Linked DNA regions of Homo sapiens. The protein of the gene in region 3 purifies or fractionates together with the protein of the main gene of each other region. This does not show direct contact. Each region holds a gene or a part of one and is shown on either strand. Other genes may lie near its edges.

Region 1 (6,047 bases), on a different chromosome or scaffold from region 3:
ATCTTCAATCCATTTTAAGTTGATTTCTTTTTTTTTTTGGAGACAGAGTCTCACTGTGTCGCCCAGGCTGGAGCGCAGTGGCTCCATCTTGGCTCACTGCAACCTCCGACTCCCGGGTTCAAGCAATTCTCCTGCCTCAGCCTCCCAAGTAGCTGGGACTACAGGCGCCCACCACCACACCCAGCTAATTTTTGTATTTTTTTCAGTAGAGACAGGGTTTCACTGTTTGGCCAGGCTGGTCTTGAACTCCTGACCTCATGATCTGCCCCACCTCGGCCTCCCAAAGTGCTGGGATTACAGGCTTGAGCCACCACACCCGGCCTTAAGTTGATTTCTATGTATGGCATTAAGGCAACAATCCAATTTCATTCTTTTGTATGTGGATGTCCAGTTTTCCCAACACTATTTGTTGAAGAGATTTTACTACATTTCTTTGTTTTATAGTTTTCCTTTATGATTTCCTACATTTGTGTGTTGGAAAGGCCTTCTCCACCACAAAATCACGAAAGTATTATCACATTTTCTTTAGTACTTTATTGTTTTACAAGTGAACCTTTAAGTTTCTCCCCACCTACTCCCGCAGAAAAAGGCATATTCAATTGTCCCATACTAATTTTTGAATAACCTAACTCTCCCTTTGTTTCTACTAAGAGAGGTTTCTTTTTGGCTACAAGTAACAATATACATATACCCAAAGCAAATGGAACAATATAAAGAATATCTCACATAACAAAAAGTCCAAAGGTAAAGCAGTTCCTGGATTGGTTAATTCAGAAGCACAATTCAGGTGCTTTCTATCTACATCCCACTATTCTCAGTGTGATAGCTTTCATCTCCATACTTGTCCTTTCATGGCCATCAGAAGGCTGTTGCAGATTAGCTTCAAACATCCATATCACATATCTTCACTGAGAAGCAGAAGAGGGATGCTGGCAAATCCCTAACTTGTATCAATTGTTAAGAGCAACAGAAAATTTCTTATTCAAAGCCTTCAGACTTCCTTTGTCTCGTTAGCCTAGATTCCATCAAATGATCAAGTAAGCCAATTACCATGATTGGCACAGAATCTAATCAACACTCACCCTCTCTAGGCTAGGGAAGCACCCTATTCTATAGCACAAGGCAGCCATACAGAGTTTTAGGCCAAAAAAAAAGAAAAAAAAAATGGGGCTTTGTCAGCAAGGAAGGGAGAACGAAATGGCTGATGGGTAGGCATATGAATGTCTAACAAACCAACTTATTTGAACCCAGCTTTTTCACACACACAATTCTCACACCTGTTTTATTTTGAAGTTCTCTATTGTGTTCTATTTTGATCTACTTCTGTGTCATTAGCTATTCCTGGGTCATTATGACTTTTAATAAACTTTATACATGTATATTTGGTAGGAACTTTCCTAAATTTTTTCAAAATTAAAATTTTTTCCCCAAAACATGTGAGAATTAGGATTGCAGTCATGCATTGCTTAGCAAAGGGGATACATTCTGAGAAATGCATCATCATTAGGAGATTTTAAAATTGTACAATCACAGAGTGTACTTACACAAACCTAGATGGTATGATCTACTATACACCTAAGCTATGGCCTATTGCTCCTAGGCTACAAACCTGTACAGCATATTATTGTAGTGAATACTGTAGGACACTGTAACACAATGGTAAGTACTTGCATATCTAAACATAAAGAAGGTACAGTAAAAATACAGTATTGTAATCTTATGGAACCACTGCCATATATGAGGTCTGTCACTGACTGAAACATCATTATAGGGCACATAACTAGAATTTAATAAATCAAGTTAAACAAATTATCTTTGTAATACTGTACCCTTCCATGAAAGGAAAATGGTATGCTTCTAACTTGAGTTTTCTTTAATGTCCTAAAGTACATTTTTATAGTTTTTATTTTGTGTTTTTAATATAATGTTTGGTATAGTCAATCTTCTTAATCTGCCATTTCTATGGCAGAGTACCCAGTGAAACATCTTGTTTGGTGTGTCAGTCACCCCCTGCTGCAGAGTTCCCTGTCACACAAATACATGCAAAAGGGTAATAAATAAATGGGAAACAAAGTATAGTTTTAGTAATCAACATGCAAGATTCTAACAAAAGCTGGAGATAACTGCTTATGCCAGATAATTTAAGTAAGAGAAAGTAAGTAGAAGAGGTGGTAAGAAAGATATATCAGATGAGCACTGACCCCAAACCACTAAGATGATATGGTCCAAAGAATGTCAGAATGACTAATTCAATTATCCAACTCTGCTCAGCTGGAAGAGGAAAGAAGGGAATAAAGATGTTAGATCCTTTACCAGGACTTCCATGCACGGGGAGAGAAGTTGAAAGTCAAAACTGTAACAGGAATAAATACAAAAATTCTTTCCAAACATACCTAATATTCTTTGGCCCTAGAGTCACTGAATTCACATTTAAACTAATCTATATTTCATTTTGATTACATTAATGGAGCTCTGAAGGAATGAAACCTATTAAAGAAAAATTAAATTTATAAACAATTTAGGCAGTCATATATGTATTTATATATACACACATACAATGTATATATGAAATCCTTATACAGGTGTAAACATTCTTAATAAATTATAAGCAATAAAATAAAAAAAATTTAGTATGTTTGCTTTTTAAAATAAAACAAATTCATACTTTATCAAAATTTGTTCATTCTTCTCACAAATAATTCTGTTGGTACATAATTTTCTCTCATGCTAATTCAACAAACCCTGAGCTTTGTTTCTCCATCTATGGCTAAATACATATCACTCTAACCAAATAAAAAGGTTTAAAATAAGGGCCCTGCATCTTGGTGTCTGGTTATTTGAAATCCGGTTTTCATTTTGAATAGTTTTGGTTAAGTGTATGTCATGGCAGAATGTCCCTTCATCTCCTTTGATCTGTGTTAAATTGATAAAAATACATGCTTACTCCTGTACAAACATCGAACAATGTAATTAAATCATCACTACTTGAAATACTTTTACATGAATAATTTATCTCTTTACACTGTTGAAGCCTTGCATTTCAGTATGTTCTACAGCTTCTGTATCATCACCTGAAATTTGCCTAAAAAAAAAAATACAAATAATTCTTTGATTTTAGATACAAAGAAAACAAGTCTAAACATCAATTTTCTGTTCCATATAGGAAATAGTTTCAGTCAAGAAATCTGCTATGTCAAAAACTTTTTCGCATTCTTCATAATATTCAATAAAGTCAATTCTATTTTTTCTTTTTTTTTGAGATGGAGTCTTGCTCTGTTGCCCAGGCTGGAGTGCAGTGGCACGATCTCTGCTCACTGCAACCTCCACCTCCTGGGTTCAAGTGATTCTCCTGCCTCAGCCTCCTGAGTAGCTGGGACTACAGGCGTCTGTCACCACGCCCAGCTAATTTTTGTATTTTTAGTAGAGACAGGGTTTCACCTTATTGGCCAGGCTGGTCTCAAACTCCTGACCTCATGATACGCCCACCTCGGCCTCCCAAAGTGCTGAGCTTACAGGTGTGAGGCACCACACCCGGCCAGTCAATTCTATTTTTATGGGATGATTATATGGTTTGTTGAGTAAGCACTTTTGTTTCTCTTTATGAATCCTACATTTGGGTACAGTATTTCATGGCTAATGATCATTGTAAATTGAAAAGAAATACAATAAAGCTCAAGTCCATTTTTTCTTGGTTGGTAGCTCTGGTGAAAAGATCTTTAGGGAGACATTTAGTGATAAAAGAATATTTGGTTTTACTTAGCTTGATATAATAGACATATCCTAAACAATTGTTTAAAAATAGCATTTTCGGGCCGGGCGCGGTGGTTCATGCCTGTAATCCCAGCACTTTGGGAGGCCGAGGCAGACGGATCACAAGGTCAGGAGATGGAGACCATCCTGGCTAACACGGTGAAACCCATCTCTACTAAAAATACAAAAAATTAGCTGGGCGTGGTGGCAGGCAACTGTAGTCCCAGCTACTCGGGAGGTTGAGGCAGGAGAATGGCGTGAACCCGGGAGGTGGAGCTTGCAGTGAGCCGAGATTGTGCCACTGCACTCCAGCCTGGGCAACAGAGCGAGACTCCGTCTCAAAAAAAAAAAAAAAAAAAAAAAATAGCATTTTCAATGTTCTAGGGAAATTTGCTATCTTAAAACACTGCAGGAGATATTCAGAAGAATATCTTTAAAAAAGTTACAGTTTGAATAACTTTAGAAAAGTTAAAAATCATCCCTTAAATTGTCTTATAAATTTGGATTTTAGTCCATTATTCAAAAATTACTGAAAATGAATGTAGTATGCTACATATTACTACACTAAAGTGTTACATTGATAAAACTAAAATGAAAGTTTCAGCATTTTAAATTTCCTCTCAGTTAAATTAAAAAAAAAAACAGACCTGAAAACAAATTACTAAAACATTTGTAAGAAAGGCGAATTCAACTTACAAGCAGGCATTGAAGACACTTCAGCTGTTACAATACTTTTTATTCCCAAGTTTGATAAGCCACCTCTGATTAAGCCACACGTAAATGCTAAATACTAAAAGGAAAAAAAATCATTAAAAATAGTAAGGATTTACTAAAATAGTAAAGCTATTGATAAATACAACATTACATGATTTATCATCAGTAAGTCATTCCTGTTTAAAAAAAGGATTTTGAAGAACTGTTCAAATTACTGAAAAATATTGATATATTTCCCAGCTCCCTGGAAACTAAAGCATGGACGTAGGACTTAAGACTTAAGCTCAGCCAATTAAGTACTCCAGTCCAGGACTGTGAATCTAGACTCAGTGACAAAAACAAGCCAGAAACTGATCAGAATTAGTTCTGGAGGCAGTAAAGGTAGTTTGTGTCTACAGTCCCTGCTGCCTGCAGGATTCTAAGTAGATACAGTCTGCAGAGTGACTTGGCTATCTTACTGGCTGCCTTAACCTCCCCTGGTTATTGCCTATTCTTTGAGCTTATCAATTTTGTTAGCTTACAAGCAGAATTTCTTTCCCCTATTTACAACCAAGAATCTTGACTTGTTCAAGACTTATAGCTTGCCACAACAAAGAATTATCTGGTTGAAAGTATCAACAGTTTGGACGTTGAGAAACCCTGTCATATAGAAACAAAGAAAGGGAATAGGGCTGAGCTACAAAACCAAAAGTCATGACAAGAACTGGATTGAAAAATTAGCAATTCAGGGAATTTTTGATTACCCACATCTATACTGCATGATGTTCAACATACTACATTATCTACGAATAATATAAAATATTATCTTATAAATAATATACATAAATGGGCACTAATAAGTAACTAGATCTGAGTCATGAAATTTTAAGCTGGAAGAGGCCTTAGAGATTGTTCATCCCAAGAGTTCTTAATCGGGGAATTTGTGACCCCTATGAAAATAAAAACCATGTATATGTGCGTATTTATGGGGAAAGGTGTTCCAGTTCTCAAAGATGTCCATAACTCAAAATAGTTAGAAATCACTGAATTGGTCCAACTTACTCTTTTCACAGCTGAAGAAACCAAGATCCCAAAAAGTTAAGTGAGAACCAGAAATATTAAACTAAGAAGTTAGTAAAAAAGAGAAAATATGCCAGGCATGGCCTATAATCCCAGCACTTTGGGAGGCTGTAATCCCAGCATTTTGGGTGGCTTTTGTAATCACGTCTGTAATCCCAGCACTTTGGGAGGCTGTAATCCCAGCATTTTGGGTGGCTTTTGTAATCACGTCTGTAATCCGAGCACTTTGGGAGGCTGAGGTGGGTGGATCACGAGGTCAGGAGTTTGAGACTAGCCTCGCCAACATGGTGAAACCCTGTCTCTACTAAAGATACAAAAAATTAGCCAGGCATGGTGGCGCACACCTGTAATCCCAGCTACTCAGGAGGCTGAGGCAGGAGAATCACTTGAACCCAGGAGGCAGAGGTTGCAGTGAGTCTCACACTCTGTCCGAAAAAAAAAAAAAAGAGAGAAAATATACACATTAACCATAAAAATGTAATTAGAGCCTGGATACCCCAAAAATATAGAAAATAGGCAATCAG
Region 2 (7,027 bases), on a different chromosome or scaffold from region 3:
GGCCTTACATCTGGACATTTCCTGTTGAGCTACAAAATACCACCCCATTTCAGGTTGGACACTTCCTCACTCCTACCAAGAGCTGCAGGGGAGACAAGGCTTTGTTCCTGCACCAAAGCATTCCTTCAAAAATTAGAGAACCAGCCAGGCACTGTGGCTCACACCTGTAATCCCAGCACTTTGGGAGGCCGAGGCAGGTGGATCACTTGAGGTCAGGAGTTCGAGACCAGCCTGGCCAACATGGTGAAACCCTGTCTCTACTAAAAATACAAAAATTAGCTGAGTGTGGTGGCGCACGCCTGTAATCCCAGCTACTCAGGAGGCTGAGGCACAAAGAATCGCTTGAGCCCAGGAGGTGGAGGTTGCAGTGAGCCGAGACTGCACCACCACACTCCAGCCTGGGTGACAGAGCAAGACACCATCTCAAAAAAAAAAAAAAAAAAAAAATTAGAGAACCATGGAGAAACAAAAGCAACAACAGGTTACCCATTATGAGAGGAGGATGTATTTGATTTGAGTTCACTGGTGTCATTATCTCACTGAAGTTCAAATGCTAACTGATGTCTAATTGCGGCTGTCCCACTACAGTGAGCAAGCAGCTTTATGTGCCACTGTATTTTCAGTGCCTGGAGCCATGCCTGGCATATGAAGGCTCTAACAAACACTTGTCAGTCCTTATCCACTATGCGTGACGCACTGCGTCACAGCACACTCCCGCTCCTCCTGCAGAGTTGTGAGCTCAGATTTCAAAAGGCAAAAAAGACCTGGCATTTGAAGGTGGATCTGCAACCTCACAGCCAAGAAGTGGATGACTGAAAAATGTCACTGATGCCCATGTGGCAAAGGAGGAAGGCATGAGTCAAGGGGTCAGAGCAGGATTCCTGACCCATGCTGCCTGTGAGCTTCAACCCCTCACCCCTTCTCTGTAAAGCAGGGGCAGGCCACTCCCTGCCGACCTGGCAGGTGGCCGCCAAGCTGTGCACACCATACAGCAACACCTTATCAGGGATGACTCCCACAGTGCCTGCTGGCTGGACAGCAGTGTGCGCTATTCACGAGGCACAGGAGGCGCAGCAGAAGGCAACAAGGTGAGGTAGAAAGGCCCCGGGCCTCAGAGACAGACCTGGTGCTTATATCAGCTCTGCTGCTTGGTGGCTGCCCGGGTCTCTAAACCTTGCTGCCTCAGCCCCACATCAGCCAGCACAGCAACCCCGTGTAGATCACAGGGCTGCCGTGAGGATTAAACACAGAGCAGGTCTACAGCATGCCTTTTCCTTTCCTTAAGCCAAATATGCACATTTGGGTGAAGAAATGAAAATTCCTTCCTTCCAGACCCTGCAAAGCACCACAGGCAGGTGCGACTGAGGCTATTCCATGCTTCCAACTCTGAGGGCTGGATTTAAGACTACTGTGTCTCAATTCTGTGATCATCTCTCCTCATACTTACCAACAACCAGAACGACACCGTGTGACCTTAGATAAATTTCAGAAACATACTGAGCACCTACTTTGCAGCAGGCACTATGGTGGCATGCACCTTACATCACTGAATCCTCACCTGTGGCTCATCAGCCAATCCTATACAGGAGGAGGGAGAGCCCTGTCCAAGCCAGGAGGCCAGTGACTGACACAGTGACACATCACTTTCCCTGGCAAATGGGGACGCCCTCTTGGCAAACAGCTGCTGCCTAGGCTTGCATCTCATCCAGCTCTGCAGAACAGCCACCATGGCAAGACACAGCAGCAAGCAGAGAGTGGAAGGAAGTGGCAAGGAAGAGCTCATCTGCAATTTTGATTTGAAATAAAGTTTTTGACTTAATAACAGGCAAGATGGGAAGCTGACCTTTTCCTGCTCTATCCAACACTCCTTGTACACAGAGAGAACAGACATACTTTTCATTTGTATACGGTAGCTGTTTAGGAGCTCCCAGGTGGTATTTCTGGCATCCTGATATCCATGCTTGGCTGCTTTGTAAGTGAGGAATTCGACACTGTGGCCATCAGGAGGGAAAAAGTAGCCACATACGCAGGGTGCACAGCCTGGCAATCCGGAGACGTGGGCTCTACTTCTAGCTCAGCTAGGACCTAGCCCTTACCTCTCCAGATTCACCCTCTCATCTGTGAACCAAAGGGACGAGACTGAATAAAACTGTTCAAACTGTGCTCTAGCACAGTGCTGTCCAACAGAAATAAAATGCAAGCCACGTAAGTACATTTCAGTTTCTAGTTGCCACATTTTTAAAAGTAAGAATGAAACAGTTGATACTGATTTTTAAAATATAGTTTATTTAACCTAAGATATGTAAAATACTATCATTTCAACATGTAATCTGTATAAAACATATTAGCAAGAAAGTTGGCCAGGCACAGAGGCTCACACCTGTAATCCCAGCACTTTGGGAGGCCAAGGCAGGCAGATCACTCAAGGCCAGGAGTTCAAGACCAGCCTGGCCAACGTGGCAAGATCCTGTCTCTATTAAAGATACAAAACTTAGCCAGGCATGGTGGCACCTGCCTGTAGTCCCAGCTACTTGGGAGGCTGAGGCATGAGAATCACTTGAACCCGGGAGGTGCACGTTGCACTGAGCCAAGATCGCGCCACTGCACTCCAGCCTGAGAGACAGAGTAAGACTCTGTCTCAAAAAAAAATTAGCAAGAAAGTTTATTTTTTCAGAAGTAAGTCTCAAAATCTGGCGTGGGTTTTATTCACAGCCCATCTCAACTAAAACTAGCCTCGTGTCTAGTGCCCAAAAGCCACAACTGGCTGTGGCTGCTGTATGGGACAGAGCTCCAGGAGTCCCACGAGGGGAGCCCCACTAAAAAGAGGGGAGTGTACAAGACAACTCTAAAGGACTCCCCCAACCAAAGGCTGTCTCTGTCTTTAAAAGTCACTGGTTTTTGTTTGGTTGGTTTTTTTAGCAGCACTCAAACAGATTCTGACAGAAAGTCATTAGTTTTAAAAACCAATGGACAACACCTTTCTACTCCTTGCTGCAATGAAATTCTGCCCTGTGCTTTCCCTTTCTGATGCAGGGAAGCCAAGGGGCCTGGGTCTCTAGGTAAGCTTACCTGCTGTCTGTGTCCAGTCCTACAAAGTCCTTTTTCTCAAACGGGACACAGAGAAGGGGGATCTTATCCCCAGACTTGTCTGTGGCTCTGTCCAGACGCTTGGACTCCAGCACGATGAACAGTGACTCGATGAAGTCCTCGATTCTCTTCTCCACCGTCTGGCAGTCCTCGTAGTTGGGGTAGAAAGCCACGTCGGTGCGCGGCTGCTCCACGATCTCCCCCTGCAGCCCGAAGACAAAGAGCCGGGAGTCATACAGTGTGGAGCCGTAGATCTCCTTCTGCACGTGGAACTTCTCAAAGGTCTGTGGCCAGTCCTTGGCCGAGAAGCAGTCTGTGATGGTGATGAGGCCCACGACTTTGCGGTGGGTCTGGAAGTCACCCCACTCGTTGTTCTCGGGTGGGTAGTGGTGCCTGTAGCGGATGTAGAGGACTCGCTGGGAGTCCCGCACGCTGATCTGACTCACAGAGCAAATCCTCTTATAGATCCTGAAGAAGTTCTCCTCGGAGACGATGCCCACAGGCTGGACCACCACGAGCAGCGTCTGGTGGTCCTCAGCACACTGCATGTAGTCAGGGACGCTCATTTTGAAGTCCCTGTTCAGAGAGAAGAAATGAGGCTGTGAGACACAGAGTCCTGAGTGCTGAGAGCCTACCCTGGGAGGCAGTGACTGTGACCTTCACTACCCAGAGGCAGGGGAAGCCCCAAGGAAAGCCGTGGCATCAACAGGTCTTAGGGCTCTACACGTGGCTGTCGCAGCTCTGATCATAATGCTGTAACTGTTGACCTTCAGTCCCTTGGCCTCAGCATGGAGCTTCTACAGAAATGGGGCTGTTTCTTGTCTTTCTATTCTCACCACCTAACCAGGAGTAGTAAGAGTCAGTGCTCAAAAATGTCTGTTGAGTGAATGAATAAACACGTGTGTAATTGCTCCCCCATCCCCTCAACAGGATATTAAGAAAAATCCACCATGCAATCACATCTGGATTTGAATTCCGGGCTCCCTGGAACTCCTCAGCTACAAAATAGTGGTGATAATAGAACTTGTCTTGGCCGGGCATGGTGGCTCATGCCTGTAATCCTAACACTTTGGAAGGCCGAAGCTGGCGGATCACTTGAGGTCAGGAATTCGAGACCAGCCTGGCCAACATGGTGAAACCCCACCTATACTAAAAATACAAAAATTAGCCGGGTGTGGTGGCACGTGCCTGTAATCCCAGTTACCCAGGAGGCTGAGGCAGGAAAATCACTGGAACCCGGGAGGTGAAAGCTGCAGTGAGCCAAGATTGCGCCACTGCACTCCAGCCTGGGTGACAGAGTGAGACTCCGTCTCAAAAAAAAAAAAAAAAGAGGCGGGGCGCAGTGGCTCACACCTGTAATCCCAGCACTTTGGGAAGCTGAGGCAGGCAGATCACAAGGTCAGAAGATCGAGATCATCCTGGCTAACATGGTGAAACCCCATCTTTACTAAAAATACAAAAAATTAGCCCGGCGTGGTGGCAGGCACCTGTAGTCCCAGCTACTTGGGAGGCTGAGGCAGGAGAATGGCATGAACCAGGGAGGCAGAGCTTGCAGTGAGCCCAGATGGCGCCACTGCACTCCAGCCTGGGCGACAGAGCCAGACTGCATCTCAAAAAAAAAAAAAAAAAAAAAGAATTAAAAGAAAAAGAACTTGCCTTATAAAACTGTATCTAGATTGAGGAGGTTGCGAATGTAAAGGGCCTAGCATTGTGCCTAACATAAAAGGAGAGATTACACAAATATACCACCTTTCCTTTATAAATGGGAGAGTTGCCATAACCTCTCTGAGCCAATTTTGTCAGATATAAAAAGAAAACGTTATTACCTGATTCCCCAGAGCTGGGGAAAAATTAAATTAGATGACCCACGTGAAAGAATCTGGCTCATAGGAGATCCTCAATACATGTTTGTTGAAGGGATTAGTGAACAAACAAACAAATGAACAATCCAATGAATGCTGCCCCCAGCCTACAGACGGTCATGATGGAAATCCCACTGCCTGGAAGTCAGGGCCGATATTCAACTCCCAGCTCTACACGCACGATCTGGGTGACCTGGAGCAAGCCTGTGTGCTTCCCTGAACCCTAGTTTCATTGTGAATAAAAATGAGGATAGTAACACATACCTCAAGGTGTCAGCAAGTCAACATTCTGGTTGTGATAACATACTGTGGTTTTGTAACATGGCACCACGGGGGGAAACTGGGCAAAAGGTATATAGGATCCCTCAGTATTATTTCTGACAAATGCACATGGAGCTACAACTACTATAGTCTCAAATAAAAAGTCTAATTTTTTTAAAGGTTAGGGAGATTAAATGAGCTCTCTGTATCAAATAAGAAAAAGATGCCTCGATACACACCTCCACTGTCCCCATCAGTGGGCTGACACTTCCTGAGGGGATTTGGCCATGGTCCCCATGGCCAGAGGCAGCTGTACCATGAGCTAATGGGGTTCAGCTTCAGGCCCCTTCCATGGCCCTCTATCTAATTTTGCATTTTTAATTTTGTTTTCTTTTTCTTAAATAGGAAGCCCAAAACTGCATAACCTTCAGGTCACCAAAGCCTGACTGCAGAGATCGTGGCAGTAAAACCCTCCCAGGTGACACTAAGATTAAAGTGACATTGCTATAAGACCTCTGTGAAATTCTAATGGCAAGCTTCTCACCTGCACGGAGAGGAGGAGGACTGTGTGTCGGGGGCTATCCTGGACATCACAACCCCACCTCTACAGACTTCAAAAATACACATGGATAGAGAAGTATGAACAAAATTAAATTTTAAAAAAAGGAAACCCTAGCCTCCCAACATGTCTTGCTTCTGCCCAGGATCTAAACGGTTCACAAGTATATTACATGTGTGTGACTCAGCCCAAGTCCCTGACTCCAGTGCTCACGCTCTCAAGGACGACGCCCCACTCTCTCCTGCCCTTTCCCCACAACGATTCCCTAAAGAGTCTTTTCTGCACACAAAAACCACCTTCGAAAGAACCAAAATCACATCACCTTCCAACAAAGAGGCATAAAACCCCTCGGAGGACATATCAAAATACTGAGCGGGGGAGACTGGAGCGCTCATGTTTCTCAAAAGTAGGCACAGGTTTAACAGAAGCTGAGAAACACCGAAGCCTTCATTCTACAGAGGAGGAGAGCGCGGCCCACCGCAGGTAACAAAGGGCCTTATTTTAGAAGTATCATCTCGGCCAGACACGGTGGCTCACACCTGTAATCCCAACACTTTGGGAGACAGAGGCGGGAGGATCACTTGAGGTCAGCAGTTAGAGACCAGCCTGGTCAACATGACAAAACCCCATCTCTATTAAAAATACAAAAATTAGCCAGGAGTGGTAGCACACACCCGCAGTCCCAGCTACTCCAGAGGCTGAGGCAGGAGAATTGCTTGAACTCAGGAGGTGGAGGAGGCAGTGAGCCAAGATCACAACACTGCACTCCAGCCTGGGTAACAGAGCGAGACTCCATCTCAAAAAAATTAATAAATAAAAATGATTTAAAAATAAAAACTATCGTCTCATCTAAAAAGCAGCATAATCAGCCGGGTGTGGTGGCTCACACCTGTAATCCCAGCACTTTGGGAGGCGGAGGCAGGCAGATCACTTGAGGTCAGGAGTTGGAGACCAGCCTGACCAACATGGAGAAACCCGGTCTCTAATAAAAATACAAAAAATTAGCCAGGCGTGGTGGCGCATGCCTGTGATCCCAGCTACTCAGGAGGCTGAGGCAGGAGAATCGCTTGAACCCAGGAGATGGGGGTTGCAGTGAGCCGAGATCACGCCACTGCACTCCAGCCTGGGCAATAAGAGTAAGACTCCCTCTCAAAAAAAAAAAAAAAAAAAACACAACCTGACCTCACACCTGTGATCTCAACACTTTGGGAGGCCAAGTCGAGTGGATCGCCTGAGGTCAGGAGTTCGAGACCAGCCT
Region 3 (7,322 bases):
ACTGAGACCTGAGGTGCGTGCAAGCAGGCAAAGCGGGCCACCAAGCAGGGTGAGGTCAGAATTAGGTGCGGCAGACTTGGTGGGGAAAAGGCTGAGTCTAGCAAGAGACCAGACATGGAATTTCTCAGGAGAGGATTCATGAGGCTTTTGATTCAAGGCTTCCTTTTGGACAGAGTGGCTCAGGGCACTGCAGGCCAGATGTGCACCCTGGTCCTTCAGGAACTGTGTCCTTGGGTAGGAGGCTGTGCGCCCTCGTCAGACCAGTAACACTGTGCTGCTGAAGAAATTTCCATGTATGTTAAAAACATCCAGACCTTTTTAATATAACACGAGGGCTTTAAAATTGTGTGTGTGTGTGCGCGTGCATGCATGTTTGTGTGTGCGTGTGCATGTGTGTGTGTGTGGCGGGGGGAGTATTGTCACTGGAGAGAGGGCTTCTTTAAGAAACAAGCTTGCTAATGCTATTTCAGCAGCAACATCAGAAATCGGGGAAACCACTGAAGTCAAGACAGAGTACTTAGTCCTTCCATTTAGTAAAATGTGAGATTTTTGTTGTCTTACAGGCCAGAAAGGCTGTGACTTGGCCCAGTCGACAGGCAAAGCTAAGAATGAGAGAGGATGAGAGAGAGGAGAAAGAACAGTGCTCAGGAGCCAGCCCCAGAAGGAGGCTACCCTACAGCGGAGGGAGCGGGGGCCTCCGCCACAAGAGCCTGGAGAGCAGGGAGCAAAAGAGAACAAACGGAGACAAAGGATTAAGAGGGTTTTAATGTATTTAACAAATGTAGATGCCGGACCCAGTGGCTCACGCCTGTAATCCCAGCACTTTGGGAGGCCCAGGGAGCAGGATCGCTTAAGCCCAGGAGTTCAAGACCAGCCTTGGCTCCGTCTCTACAAAAAATGAAAAAAATTAGCTGGGCGTGGTGGTGTGCACCTGCAGTCCCAGCCACTTGGGAGGCTGAGGGGGGAGAATCGCTTGAGCCTGGGAGTTGGAGGCTGCAGTGAGCTATGATCGCGCCAGTGCACTCCAGCCTGGGTGGCAGAGGGAGACACTCTCTTAAGAAACAAAAATAAAGAAAAAAAAAAACCCACCCACACAAACACAGAGTTTTTGTTTCCTCTAATCCTTGTTATAAATTACTTGATTGTTCAGTGTATAGCTAAGTCTTACTTTCAAGCAGCAGCGATCGAGTATTATCACAGGTTAGATCCCTTCTGCTTTCAGCTCTTCCTACAGAAATTGTACTCTATACAAGAAGCCCAACTTTGGGGTTTATGGAAAGGTAAACCATAAGTTTTATGCTTATGTTGACAGAAGCCCTGGGTGGGGCCTCTGAATGCTGGTTCAGAACCTGGAGGGGAGATTTCCGTTCCTGGGTGAGACCTGTGAGGCTTATTCTAATTCAGGGCCGCAGAGGACACAACCCTGCTTCACTGCCCTATGTTTACCTTCCTGATCCTTACCTGTAACAAACCTGCACTCTCAGAAGCAAGGCTACAGAGGTTCTTTTCTTGGTCTCTTTCCCTCCCCGAGGTGGCCGGGGTCCTCCACGTCTGGCCCCAGCGTGTCCTCTGGGAACACTGGCTGCCTGGCCGGGTGTGCTGAGAGGCCGGCTGGGAAGGCCACACTGCAACGAACACCTACATTCCAGGTATTGGCAGACGCACTGTCGCACGGTTCTCGCTCTGCGGACTCACTTGTTGAGGTGAGATTTCACTTCCCTCCCGGTGGGTGGCAGCTAACGGATAAGCACACAGAGGAAACTGCAGCAAGCACCTCGTGTTTCCACACACAGAGGCGGCCACCACCCAGTGCCCCAGTTACGCTGGACACCTGGTTCGCTGTGCCTCTGCCTGTCCCAGCGGTGAGGGGTGTGGAGAATCCCTTGGTGGCTGTCCCAGCAGAAGAGCTGACTTCATGTGCTCAGGACACACAGTTGAGGCCTGAGTGGATCTCGTGGGCACTGACACTCATCCCCACGGAGCCTCCCACAGCACATCCTAAGCTCAGCTTGGTTCTGTTGTCCGGAGCCTCCCCTTCTGCCCCTCTCCTCTCCCCCTCACTTCAGACCTCTCAGGCTCTTCGTGCCTTCTGCCTGGACTGTTCTTTAATACTAAAGGTGAAATGAGGAATGAGAGAAAGTGCCTTAACTTCCCACAATAGAAGCTGAATGCTAGACAGAGCCTCAGGTCATATTCACCAAACAGAAGGTCCGAGGCTCTGATTGTGGAAAGAAGGGGACAGGGAGCTCAGGGAGGAGGGAGCTTTCTAGAGGGGAGAGAGGAGAGAGAAGGGTCTTCCATTTACCTGTGCCTTAGACTCAAGGAATTCTCTGGGGGTCTAGACCTCCTGCGGATGAGTGCCCAAGTTCCCACGAGGTACTCAGGACTCTGATCTCAAACCAGGAATTCCCATGCTGGCTTCAGTCCCTGAATCCTCGTGGTCTCCAGCTTGGGCAGTGGTGTCCCTGGCCACGGAATGGCTGTCATGTCATTGCATACCTCCCCAGATACATAAGCAGAGAAGACTGAGTAACGTCACATACCTCAACCAGTAATGTGTTCTTAACTGAATGTCCCAAACCCTTTGTAGCAAAAGAGAAATGAAAGAGAAACCTAAATAACCTTTCTTCGTCTTTCCTGGAAACCCCGCTAAACTAGATTCTCAATGTCATTTTGTGTCCTGAGACTTACATGATAAGAACTTTGTAATAAACCCAGTAAAGAGCTCCCTGAATTAGACTGCCTCATTTGGCAAACAGCTAAAGACCAGGCTGTGTCCTCCTGCAAAGGCTGAGGATGAAGACTGGTGCCTCCTGGTGTTACCTGGTCTGGAAGCTGTCTGTGATTTCTTCTGCTTCAGGTCAGGTGGCAGTAAGGATATTTCTATACCTGAGTCTCTCTCCACGAAACTTAAGAGGAAACTTTCAACAGGTCTTCTTGGCTTGTCGTTTGGAAAGACTCAGGTAGTTTAGAGCCCCAGGCTCTAAACTTTCTTCAGGTTTAGGACTCAGCCTGAAAAGAGGCTTAAAGAAGGAGAACCACTTCCTTATTACGCCCTGCCCCTGGCTTTTTAATTGAAGGAGGGGCTGATCTTTGCCCGTGTAATTTGACTCTAAAAGGAATTCTATATCCATTACCTAGCACTCTTCCTGCCCTTTGGGATAACTAGGTGGGTGTTCTGATACTTCTTTACTATCCTTATCAGTTGTTAGTTAAACAAATGTTTACTGACCGCCTAACATGGTACAGGTACTGTACACATATTTAATCTTTTTTTTTTTTTTGAGACAGAGTTTCACTCTGTTGCCCAGGCTGGAGTGCAGTGGTGCGATCTTGGCGCACTGCAACCTCCGCCTCCTGGGTTCAAGCGATTCTCATATCTCAGCCTCCTGAGTTTCTGGGATTACAGGCTTGCACCAGCACGCCTGGCTAATTTTTGTATTTTTAGTAGAGACAGGGGTTTCACCATGTTGGTCTCGAACTCCTGGCCTCAGGTGGTCTGCCCTCCTCGGCCTCCCAAAGTGCTGGGATTACAGGCGTAAGCCACTGCGCCCGGCCAACATATTTAATCTTAACAACATTGAGAGGCAGGCGTTACGATTCCCATTGCACAGATGAGGAAACTGAGGCTCAGAGAGGTGAAGTATCTTGCTACGGATCCCTATCAGTTGAGCTGAGATCCAAATCGTGCTCTTTCTGGCTTTACACTCTATCATGTCACCTCTCCTATGTGACTCAAAGATTGTGTTCAAGTGGAACCACTGGAAAAGTGTTCAAAAAGGAATCTAAGCACAGCCATAGTAAAAACCACAAAAACCCACTGAAAGGCCAAATGTCATAACTTTAGAGATGGAATTCCCTATTATATGAAATAGGAAACAGTTACATCTGATTTTATGCTCTTTCCAGAGTCTTAAGTGAAATAGATATATATGGCCATGCTTGAGATCATAAACCCTGGACCGCTGGTCAAACTGTGACGATGAAGGAAGTGTGAATAGTGAAAGGGGAATTAATGCTATTTTCGTAAAAGTGGGGAAGAATGGGTCATTTAAATATTAGGCAAACAGATCCACAAGAGACAAACAGATGGTAGTTATGGGAAAGTTAGATATTTAGTAACTCGAGGTGAATTTTCACCAGCAAACTAATATTTTTTGCACCAGTGAGGTCAATGTAGAGGGTATTAAAGAAATACTAAGAATGATTTTTCTCTTTTTATAAAAACTTGCCACCTTTTTTTTTTTTTTTTTGAGACGGAGTCTTGCTCTGTCGCCCAGGCTGGAGTGCAGTGGTGCGATCTTGGCTCACTGCAAGCTCCACCTCCTGGGTTCACGCCATTCTCCTGCCTCAGCCTCCCAAGTAGCTGGGACTACAGGCGCCCGCCACCAAGCCTGGATAATTTTTTTTTTTTTTTGTATTTTTAGTAGAGACGGGGTTTCACCGTGTTAGCCAGGATGGCCTCGATCTCCTGACCTCCCGATCTGCCCGCCTCCACCTCCCAAAGTGCTGGGATTACAGGCGTGAGCCACCGCGCCTGGCCAAAAACTTGCAACCTTTTTTTGGGGGGAGACGATGAGATATATTCACTGGAAACAATTCAAGAATAAACAGGGTCTGGCTCAGTGTCTCAAGCCTGCAAGCCCAGCATTTTGGGATGCTGAGGTGAGAGGATCACTCTGAAGCCAGGAGGATCACTTGAAGACCAGCCTGGACAACACAGTGATGAGACAAGAGTTCTTCAGGACTGGTTTGCAAGGTACAGGTCACAAAGACACCACTGATAAAATGACATGTAGTAAAGCAGCAGCCCAAATCTATCAAAACCAAGATGCGATGAAAGCAACCTCCGGTCGTCCTCACAGCTCATTATATGCCAATGATAATGCACTGTTGTGCTAAAAGACACTCGCTCCTACCAGCCCCATGTCAGTTTACAAATGTTATGGCAATGTCTGGAAGTTACCCTATATTGTCTGAAATGGGAAAACCCTCAGTTCTGGGAACTCCCCACCTTTTTCCCAGAAAACTCACGAATAATTCACTTTTTGTTTAGCATATGATCAAGGAATACCCGTATACTCAATCAAACAGCCCATGCCACTGCTCTGCCTATGGAGTAGCCCCCCTTTTATTCCTTAACTTGCTTAATAACCTTGCTTTCATTTTACTTTGTTGGCTCACTCTTGAATTCCTTCTTGTGGGAAGCCAAGAACCCATGTGGCCTCCCAGACTGAACCCCAATTTTGGGATTCACGCTGTGATAGTAAGACCCCATCTCTTAATTTTTTTTTTTTTAATTAGCCAGGCATGACTCACGCATGTAGTGCTAGCTACTCAGGGGGCTGAGGTGGGAGGATCACTGGAGACCAGGTATTCAACACCAGCCAGACAACATAGCATGGTGGCACATGCCTGTAGTCCTAGCTACTTGGTAGTCTGAGACAGAAAGATTGCTTGAGCCTAGGAGTTCAAGGGGGCAGCAAGCTAGGATCATGCTATTGTAGTTTAGCCTGGGTGACAGAGTAAGACCCTGTCTCAAAACAAAAACAAAAACCCTGTCTCAAAACAAACAAACAGAAAAACAAACAATAAAACCACAAAAGCATATAAGCAATAATAAAATCACATCACATAGTATGTCCATACTGGAGTTCTGAGTTACATAACTAAACAATGTTTGTTGCTGAAACCATTTAGGATCCTGAAGAGTCTTGGTCATGCACAGTGGCTCATACCTGCAATCCCAGCGCTTTGGGAGGCTGAGGCAGGAGGACAGACTGTGTCCTGGAGTTTGAAACCAGCCTGGGCAACATGGTGATAACCCCATCACTACAAAAAAATAAAAAGTTAGCTGGGCGTGGTGGAGCACACCTGTAGTCTCAGCTACTCAGGAGACTGAGGCGGGAGGATTGCTTGAGCCTGGCAGGGGGCCGGGGGCTTGAGGCTGCAATGAGCCATGATGGCACCACTGCACTCAGCCTGGGTGACAGAGCCAGACCCTGTCTCAAAAAAAAAAAGTCCTGAAAGGTTTTGGTAAAGCAACTATTAACACAGGGAAGGGGCAAACCCCACACGGAAGCTGAGGAGAGCAACTGTCCACCTCTCATTCAACTATGTTATCTCCACGCCTAACAAGTTGGCCAGGGACAGGTCACAACACATGTTAGATATTAAACAGCAAAAGCAAAAACCACTTTTCTCCCGATTGTAAACATAGACATGCTGTTGTAGAAAACTCGTAAAACAGGGTCATAATAAGGATTGCCATAATGCAGTCATTCAGTGGGAAATGCTGCTAAAAATTTGGTGGACGTCCCTTCTTTTCTTTGAGAAAAAGGAGACACAGGACAAACTCTCTGCCCTCCCCCTCTCTATAAGGAAAGTCAGGATGATTCTTTTTTTTTCTTCAGACAGAGTCTCACTCTGTTCCCCAGGCTGGAGTGCAGTGGCACGATCTCGGCTCACTGCAACCTCTGCCTCCCGGGTTCAAGCTATTCTCCCACCTCAGTCTCCAGAGTAGTTGCAATTACAGGCATGTGCCACCACGCCTGGCTCATTTTTGTATTTTTAATAAAGACGGGGTTTCACTATGTTGGCCAGACTGGTCTCCAACTCCTGAGCTCAAGATATTTGTCTGCCTCAGCCTCCCAAAAGTGCTGGGATTACAGGTGTGAGCCACCACGTCCAGCCATCATAACTTCTAATAAACTTATTTTGTAAATAAAATTTTTTAGTGGCGACATCATTCCAGTGAATGATAGCACTAAAAATATTCATCCAGAGGAGAATCACTTGAACCCAGGAGGCAGAGGTTGCAGTGAGCTGGGATCACACCACTGCACTCCAGCCTGGGTGACAGAGCGAGACTCAGTCTCCAAAAAAATCAAAATAAAAATCAAATCAAATCAAATAATCAGCCAGCCAACTATTTTTAAATGTTTTGTTTGTCACCAGGTGCGGTGGCTCATGCTTGTAATCCCAGCACTTTGGGAGGCCAAGGCAGGTAGATCACGAGGTCAGGAGATCGAGACCATCCTGGCTAACACAGCGAAACCCCGTCTCTACTAAAAATACAAAAAATTAGCTAGACATGGTGGTGGGCGCCTGTAGTCCCAGCTACTCAGGAGGCTGAGGCAGGAGAATGGCGTGAACCCGGGAGGCGGAGCTTGCAGTGAGCCGAGATTGCGCCACTCCAGCCTGGGCGACAGAGCGAGACTCTGTCTCAAAAAAAAAAAAAAAAAATAATAATAATAATGTTTTGTTTGTCTTCAAGTGCTTACTGTTACAAATAATGCTGCAGGGTAGAGCTTTTCATCTTT
Region 4 (7,370 bases), on a different chromosome or scaffold from region 3:
AGAAATTATGAGAAGGGCCGGGTGCAGTGGCTTATGCCTGTAACCCAGCACTTTGGGAGGCCAAGGTGGGCAGATCACCTAAGGTCAGGAGTTCAAGGCCAGCCTGGGGAAGACCCCCTGCCGTCTCTACAAAAAATTAAAAAATTAGCTGGCATGGTGGTACGTGCCTGTGGTCCCAGCTACTTGGGAGGCTGTAGTGGGAGGATGGCTTGAAGCCAGAAGACTGAGGCTACAGTGAGCCGTGACTGTGCCCCTGCACGCCAGCCTGGGCGACAGAGCAAGACCCTGTCCCCCCACCAAAACATTTTTTTTCTCTTGATCTATTTCACCAGTTTGAGTATGATATGCCTGCATGTAATTTTCTTTGTATGTGTTCTCTTCAGGTTTTGCTGAATTTCTTGATCTGTAAATCAGTATTTTTCACCACGTGTTTGGATTTGGAGCCATCATTTTGCAAAAATGTTTCCTTCCTAGACTCATACTCTCCTTCTGGAGCTCCGATCACACATGCTTTTGGCCATTTCATACTGTCCCATAGGTCTCTGAGGTTCTCTCCACTTTTCTTCAACTTTTTTCTCTTCTTCAGATTAAATAATTTCTATCCATCTGCCTTCAAGATCCCAAACTCCTGTTTTCTCCAATCTGTTAATCCAATTCAGTGAAATTTTCATTTCTGTTATTGTACTTTTCAGTTCTAGACTTTTCTTTTGATTCTTTTAGATACTTTGTTATTCTGCTGTGAATTTCTGATTCTTTACTCATTAAGACAATATTTTCATTTAATCCTTTGGACATATTATTTTTATTTATTTTGAGATGGAGTCTTGCTCTGTCACCCAGGCTGGAGTGCAGTGGCACTATCTTGGCTCACTGTAACCTCCACCTCCCGGATTCAAGCGATTCTCCTGCTTCAGCTTTCCGAGTAGCTGGGGCTACAGGCGTGCGCCACCACACCCAGCTAATTTTTGTGTTTTTAGTAGAGATGGGGTTTCACCATGTTGGCCAGGCTGATCTCAAACTCCTGGGCTCAAGTGATCTGCCCACCTCGGCCTCCCAAATTTCTGGGATTACAGGTGTGAGCCACCGTGCCCAGCCTCCTTTGGACATATGTAGAGCTGCTTTAGAATCTTTGTAAATACAGAATCTGGTTCATTGTAGGGGGATTGGTTTCTGTTAACTGCTTTTTTTTTTTCTTAACTATGGCTTACGTTTTCCTCTTTCTTTGTATGTTTAGTGATTTTTGTTTTTTTAGTGTATATTCAACACTGATAAATAACAAATGAGGGAGACTCAGGGTGCTCTTCCACTGAAAAATCCTGACTTTCGTTCTAGTTTGTAGTTCCATTACTGGACGTACCATGCTGGGCTGTGTAGGCTTAGCTTTAGGCTCTGTTTACTGAGCAATGTCCCAGGTGTCTCCCAGGCCCCTCTTACTTGGCAGGACTTAACCTCCAAACTCTGACCGTCTTGTGGATCGGGTCAGGGTTTTGCTTTAGACGTTGTTAAGGCGGGCCTGGAGTAGTCCTTATTCTAGGGGAGGGACTGGCAACCTCTGGCTCACAAGCCACATGTGTTGATGGCCTGTTTTTGTACAGCACTTAAAGCCAGGAATGGCTTTTATATTTTTAAAGAGTTGTTTAAAAAAAAAAAAAAAACAAGCAAAAATATGAAACAAAAACTGCATGTGGCCCACACAACCTAAAATACTTATCTGGGCCCTTTATAGGTCGTTTGCTGACCCCTGGGAATGTGATTCTCAATCTAGTGTCTCAGCTCAATGTCCTCAGTGTTAATGGCATTAAAAAGGTCTTGACTGGGCACGGTGGCTCGTACTCGTCATCCCAGCACTTTGGGAGGATTAGGCAGGAGGACTGCTTGAGGCCAGGAGTTCAAGACCAGCCTGGGCAACAGAGTGGGACCCTCTCTCTACAAAAAAAGAAAAAATTAGCCGGGCGTGGTGGCACTCACCTGTGGTCCCAACTACTTGGGAGGCTGAGGTGGGAGGATCACTTGAGCCCAGAAGTTCTAGGCTGCACTGAGATAACGATCAAACCACTGCACCCCAGCCTAGGTGACAGAACAAGACTGTCTGAAAAGAAAACAAAACGGAAAGTCCTTTCCTGTAGCACTACTGGACCTCTAGTCTTTGTGCCATCCTCAACTCTGTAACAGCCGCTTCCTGGTAAACCCATAGAGTCGTCCCACACGTGTAGTCCAGCCTAGGCCAAGGACTTTCAGGGAACCCTACATCGACTTCGGCTCCCCACTCTTGCTAAGCTTCTTCCCCTCCAGTGCCCTGCCTTGCCGGCCTGCTGCTTTAGCTGCCCAGAAGTCTGGTCTCTTGCCTCTCACACCATTACAGTGCACCACACTACACTATGTTCACACATTTAGCAGCTGTGTTCACACCCAAACTATCTCATATATACATTTTGTTAAAAAAAACTTCAGGACTCTCTAAACTTATGATGCCAAGGGTGAAGTTAAGCCCTGGAGACTGAGTCAGTAGCAAGTTTGCAATTCTGCTTCTTCGATTACAGTTTAATGCTCTTCCTCCTTGTTCTTGAGCACAAGTGTCTTCCTCATTGTGGCTGCTCTGTAAATCAGGGCTCCCCGACCGCCAGGGCCACAGACACATACCGGTCAGGCCACACAGCAGGAGGTGAGCTTCAGGCCAGGGAGCAAAGCTTCATCTGTATTTACAGCTGCTCCCCATCGCTGGCATTACCGCCTGAGCTCCGCCTCCTGTCAGGTCAGCAGCAGCGCTGGATTCTCCTAGGAGGGTGAACCCTGTTGTGAACTGCACATTGGAGGGGTCTAGGTTGCGTGCTCCTTATGAGAATCTCATCCCTAATGATGTGTCCCTGGCTTCCATCATCCCTAGATGTGACCGTCCAGTTGCAGGAAAACAAGCTCAGGGCTCCCACTGATTCCACATTATGGGAAGTTGTATTTTATTACATATTACAACATAAAAATAATAAAGTGCACAATAAATGAAATGTGTTTGAATCGTCCTGAAACCACCCCAACTTTGTCTGTGGAAAAACTGCATTCTATGAAACTGGTCCCTGGTGCCAAAAAGGTTGGGGACTGCTGCTGTTAATGACTAAGAAAGACCAGGTCTCCCCCTTCCCATTTGGTGATTTTTGTTACAGATTAGCTGTCTCCATTGTCCTGTACCTGACTTAGACCAGACAGCACAGAGACCCCAGGACTGTTTCATCTTCAGTGGGTCCCCAAAGAAAAAGACCACCTCGACTAAACAGACTGTTGTAACTATGCATTAGGCCTTATACAGAAAAGACGCTGAAATTCGGTTAGGCTTCCCGAGACGCTGGCTATAGAAACGACCCCAAATTTCTACGTTTGAGAACACTGACTTCCATTCTTTATAATGTTTCCTGGGCGCCTCAAGCTTCGCATTTGACTAAACTCTAGATTCTGACCCTTTTGATTATTTTTGGTTGACAGTTTTTGTCATTTTATGGCTGGGAGTGATGGCTCACACCTGTAATCTCAACACTTTGGGAGGCCAAGGCTGGAGGATCACTTGAGCCCAGGAGTTTGAAACCAGCCTGGAAAACATAGTGAGATCCCGACAAAAGAAAAGAAAAGAAAAAAATTAGCTGGGCGTGGTGGCTGCCCCCGTGGTCCCAGTTACTGGCGGAGGGGGTGGGGCGGGGGGAAACAAGGCGGGAGGATCGCTTGAGCCTGGAAGGTGGAGGCTGCAGTGAGCCGTGTCCCGCCACTGCACTCCAGCCTGAGCCAACTGAGGAAGACCCTGCTCCAAAGAAAAAAAGAAAAAGAAACACCCGCGCCCCGCCCCCCCCGTTTACGTGCACAAGAAGCCCATATGCAGTTAAGTGTGAGGTTTATTTTGTGGCATTCCGAAATGCCGAGGGCCAGGTCCCCACAAAAACATTTGCGGCGTGAGGGAAACGGGAAGAGCCCAGCGGTAGGCGGAAGGCACGCGCCGGGGACACTCAGCGGCGAGGGCCTGCGGGAGCCCCCAGCGCGATAAGGAGCCCGGCCGGGGAGCAGCGGCCCGCCGCGGGACGCCCGAGCTGCGGGGAACGCGAGGGCAGCGAGGCCGGCGTCTCTGGTCCGGGAGCGTCCAGGCTCGCTCACCGCGCGCGAGGCCCGCCTGCCGAGTCCTGGCCTCAGCTCCGGCGCAGGGCCCAGCGGGGCGCCCACTGCCGAGGGAGGAAGATGGACGTGTCCCGGGAGCCCCGCTCCGCCTCCCACTTCCCACCTCCCGGTCCCGCGCGGCCGGCCCGGGCGCACTTCCGTCGGAGGCGAAGCGCGGCGAAGACCCGCCCCGTGAAGCCTCGCGCGCCCCGGAAATGGTCATGCGGCGGCGCCGAGGCCGGAAGTGGCTGAGGCCGGCAGCAGCGGGCGGCAGCTGCGGCGCAACCGGCTCCGGAGCTGCCTGGCGCGGCCGGGCGGGCGGCGCCGCTCAGGCTCGGGCTCCGGCTGGGCCCGGCGCGGCCTCGGGGCTGCCCATGGGGCGCGGGGGGCCGGGCCGGTGACGCCGGACGCCCATGGACGCCTCTGAGGAGCCGCTGCCGCCGGTGATCTACACCATGGAGAACAAGCCCATCGTCACCTGTGAGTGCCCGGAGGCGGGGAGGGCGCGGCGGTCGTTGGGCGGGCCCGGGCCCTGGCGTTATGCACCCGGCGCCCCCAGACCTTCAGCCCCCGGCGCGCTCCGGGCTGGGCCGCTTCCTGGAGGTGTGACCAGGGCTGCGGCTGAGGCGGGGCCCTCTGACTTTTCGGGGACGCCCTCTGACCTTCCCGCCGGGCGACCTCTGACCCCTGGGGGGCGCCCTCGGGCCGGCTGCAGTTGGAGCCGGTGGAACCCGGCGGACTCTGCCCGGGACTGGGCGCGCGCCGGCGTCGAGGGCGAGGAGCGGGGGCTGCCACCGCCCCGTCCCGCCCCCGTTGAGCCGCGCGCCCGGGACCTGGGGGCCCCGGCCTCTTCCGCCGGGCGGTTTTGCCCGCGGGCGCCCTTTCCCCGACTACGGGGAAGTCCTTGGGGGCTCGCAGAGTTGCAGGCGTTGGCGAAGTAGGAACAGTTTGTTGCGGGGTGAAGCGTCAGGCAGAGCCGCCGGGACTGCTTTCGCTCCTACACACTTCCCCGCCGCGCACTCAAACCATTTTACGGATGAGAAAGCCGAGGCTCGGGCGCTTAGGCGAGCTTGCTCCCCATGAACAGCCTCCCGCTCGAGTCTACACTACGGACACCTGGTGCCTCTTGGGTGTCGTGTCCTCCCCGCACCCCTCCTTTAATGCATACACAAAGGAACTGTTTTTCTGTTACGGGAAAAATGTTCCCTAAATTTTAGAAGTGTGACTCTCCAGAGTTAAATACGGTTAAGAACAGTGAGCTTATGGGAAGTATTGAAATGTTTGTTGGTTGGCTTTTAGGTGACTTGCAGAGAGGTGTTTCAGACTGTTACGATTTTTGACCTTTGACAGTATTCTGTATTTTCATGCATGTATGCAGTTAGTTTTTTTCTAGTTGTCTTTCGTGCTTGGAAAGGAAGCACTCTCTGTTGCAAAATCTGGGTGCCCAGGCCACAGTAGACTGTATGTCGTGAGAACTCCTGTTTCCCTCTCACTCTGTCAGCGGGTGTGCACCTGCTGTGTTCCTTCCTGTTAGATCCCTGAGAAACTGTATATTGAAGGTTGAATTTTGTTGCTTCAGCTTTAGGTGATAGACTTATTTCTTTCCTTCCTTTTGCTTTATTTTGTCTCTTCTCCTCTCCTCCTCTCTCTTTTTTTTCTACAGAGACCTAGACGAGATGATAGACTTTTCTTAGGGAAGTGGACTGTGTCTCATTTAAAATTGGAGACTTGCATAGTTCAGCAGTAGCTGTCTTTTTTCCTCCCCAGAATATTTGTCAGCTGAAAGTCTTTTCCTACTCTGCACCTTCAGCCCCAGAGGGCAGATGTGGGTAGAGCTGGTCTGCAGGCCCTGCAATTTCCCAGGGGCTTTCCCAGTGCTCAGGGAAGATGAAGCCATGCGCAGTTCATGTTAAGTTTTACTGTCTTCCAGAGGTTGAACATTTTTCTCCTAAAGTGCTGTGCACGTTGTGAATGCTGGATACACATTCATTGCCTGTACGGACATCCACACATCTAATTTTATCTTCTACCTCCTAGCTTGCTTACATTTCAATAGCAATATGTATTTATAGGCATTATGTAAATACATTTCTGAGGAGAAAGTTCCTAAGCTCTATTGGATTCAACCATAACTAAAGGGGTAAAGTTTGTTATCTGGTTGCCAGTGTTGGAGATATTTAATGTTTAGTTTTGTACATGCGTGCATCACGGACAGCTGAAGGATGCGGTTTTCTTTCCTACAGATTTATTGGATTGTCATCTTGGTGGTGGGTTTTTTCCTGTGTTTTGAGCAGCAGAGTGAATTTTTTTTTTTCCTTCTTCTTCTTTTTTGAGACGGCGTCTTTCTCTGTCGCCCAGGCTGGAGTGCAGTGGCATGATCTCGGCCATGATCTTGGCTCACTGCAACCTCTGCCTCCCGGGTTCAAGCGATTCTCCTTCCTCGGCCTCCCGAGTAGCTGGGATTACAGGCGCATGCTGCCATGCCCGGCTAATTTTTTGTTTGTTTGTTTTTGTTTTTTTTTTTTTTCAGTAGAGACAGAGTTTCACCATGTTGGTGAGGCTGGTCTCGAACTCCTGACCTTGGGTTGTCCACCTGCGCAGCCTCCCGAAGTGCTGGGATTACAGGCTTGAGCCCCCACCCTTGGCCTCAAGCAACATAGTGAATGTTAATCTCTGCATGGATGGTACACTGTCCTAGAAGGTGCAAACTTTCATTCATTGGAGTCTCAGAAGAGAAGGGGGCTTCAGTAGACTGTCAAAGTTAACTTGAAAAATGATCACTTTAAAAGTGAAGGTAAAAAGCTGACTTCATACTTCCCACTTGAAATTATGTTGTGGTATATCTGGGACTGAAGCTTTAGGAAGCACTTGGCCTGGTTTCACTTTATGCCTTCATCTTGCTCCTCTCTTTCAGCTATACATGTTTTGAAAGGAGAAGGTGGTATGAACAATTGCTTTAAAAAAATCCACCCAGAGGCTAATTAACCCTTAACTTTTTAATATTATGTACATAGTTCTCTTAGTAGGCAACATTTTTGTTTTCAAAAATCTTTTAAATTCTTACTTGAAATGGTATTACCTCAGATCTGTTCATTTTAAAATGAAAGTAGAGTTTATGCATGTTGTGAATTTTTTTTCCATAGAATGTATAATATTTTACTTCAGTGAAAATGCATTCTGCTTAGACCTTTCTGGGAAGAATATAGAATGTAACTGGTTCAGGTGAATTTAAAAACTGT

What was found.
Region 1: the proteins of BCL2L14 (region 3) and TRAPPC6B purify together in Homo sapiens (affinity purification with mass spectrometry; 4 studies listed by BioGRID and IntAct, with this or other methods). This does not show direct contact.
Region 2: the proteins of BCL2L14 (region 3) and TRAPPC9 purify together in Homo sapiens (affinity purification with mass spectrometry; 4 studies listed by BioGRID and IntAct, with this or other methods). This does not show direct contact.
Region 4: the proteins of BCL2L14 (region 3) and TRAPPC10 purify together in Homo sapiens (affinity purification with mass spectrometry; 4 studies listed by BioGRID and IntAct, with this or other methods). This does not show direct contact.

The regions. Positions count from the first base shown.
Region 1 is NC_000014.9:39,147,300-39,153,346, forward strand, and holds the end of TRAPPC6B (trafficking protein particle complex subunit 6B), read right to left. Parts: intron 4,541-6,047; coding exon 4,447-4,540; intron 3,083-4,446; coding exon 3,051-3,082; 3' UTR 515-3,050; downstream 1-514. UniProt on the Homo sapiens protein: Component of a transport protein particle (TRAPP) complex that may function in specific stages of inter-organelle traffic.
Region 2 is NC_000008.11:140,447,721-140,454,747, forward strand, and holds part of TRAPPC9 (trafficking protein particle complex subunit 9), read right to left. Parts: intron 3,664-7,027; coding exon of another isoform or gene 3,654-3,663; coding exon 3,070-3,653; intron 1-3,069. UniProt on the Homo sapiens protein: Functions as an activator of NF-kappa-B through increased phosphorylation of the IKK complex. May function in neuronal cells differentiation. May play a role in vesicular transport from endoplasmic reticulum to Golgi.
Region 3 is NC_000012.12:12,066,639-12,073,960, reverse strand, and holds the start of BCL2L14 (apoptosis facilitator Bcl-2-like protein 14), read right to left. Parts: upstream 3,023-7,322; 5' UTR 2,824-3,022; intron 2,559-2,823; exon of another isoform or gene 2,306-2,558; intron 1-2,305. UniProt on the Homo sapiens protein: Plays a role in apoptosis.
Region 4 is NC_000021.9:44,007,950-44,015,319, forward strand, and holds the start of TRAPPC10 (trafficking protein particle complex subunit 10), read left to right. Parts: upstream 1-4,359; 5' UTR 4,360-4,544; coding exon 4,545-4,611; intron 4,612-7,370. UniProt on the Homo sapiens protein: Specific subunit of the TRAPP (transport protein particle) II complex, a highly conserved vesicle tethering complex that functions in late Golgi trafficking as a membrane tether.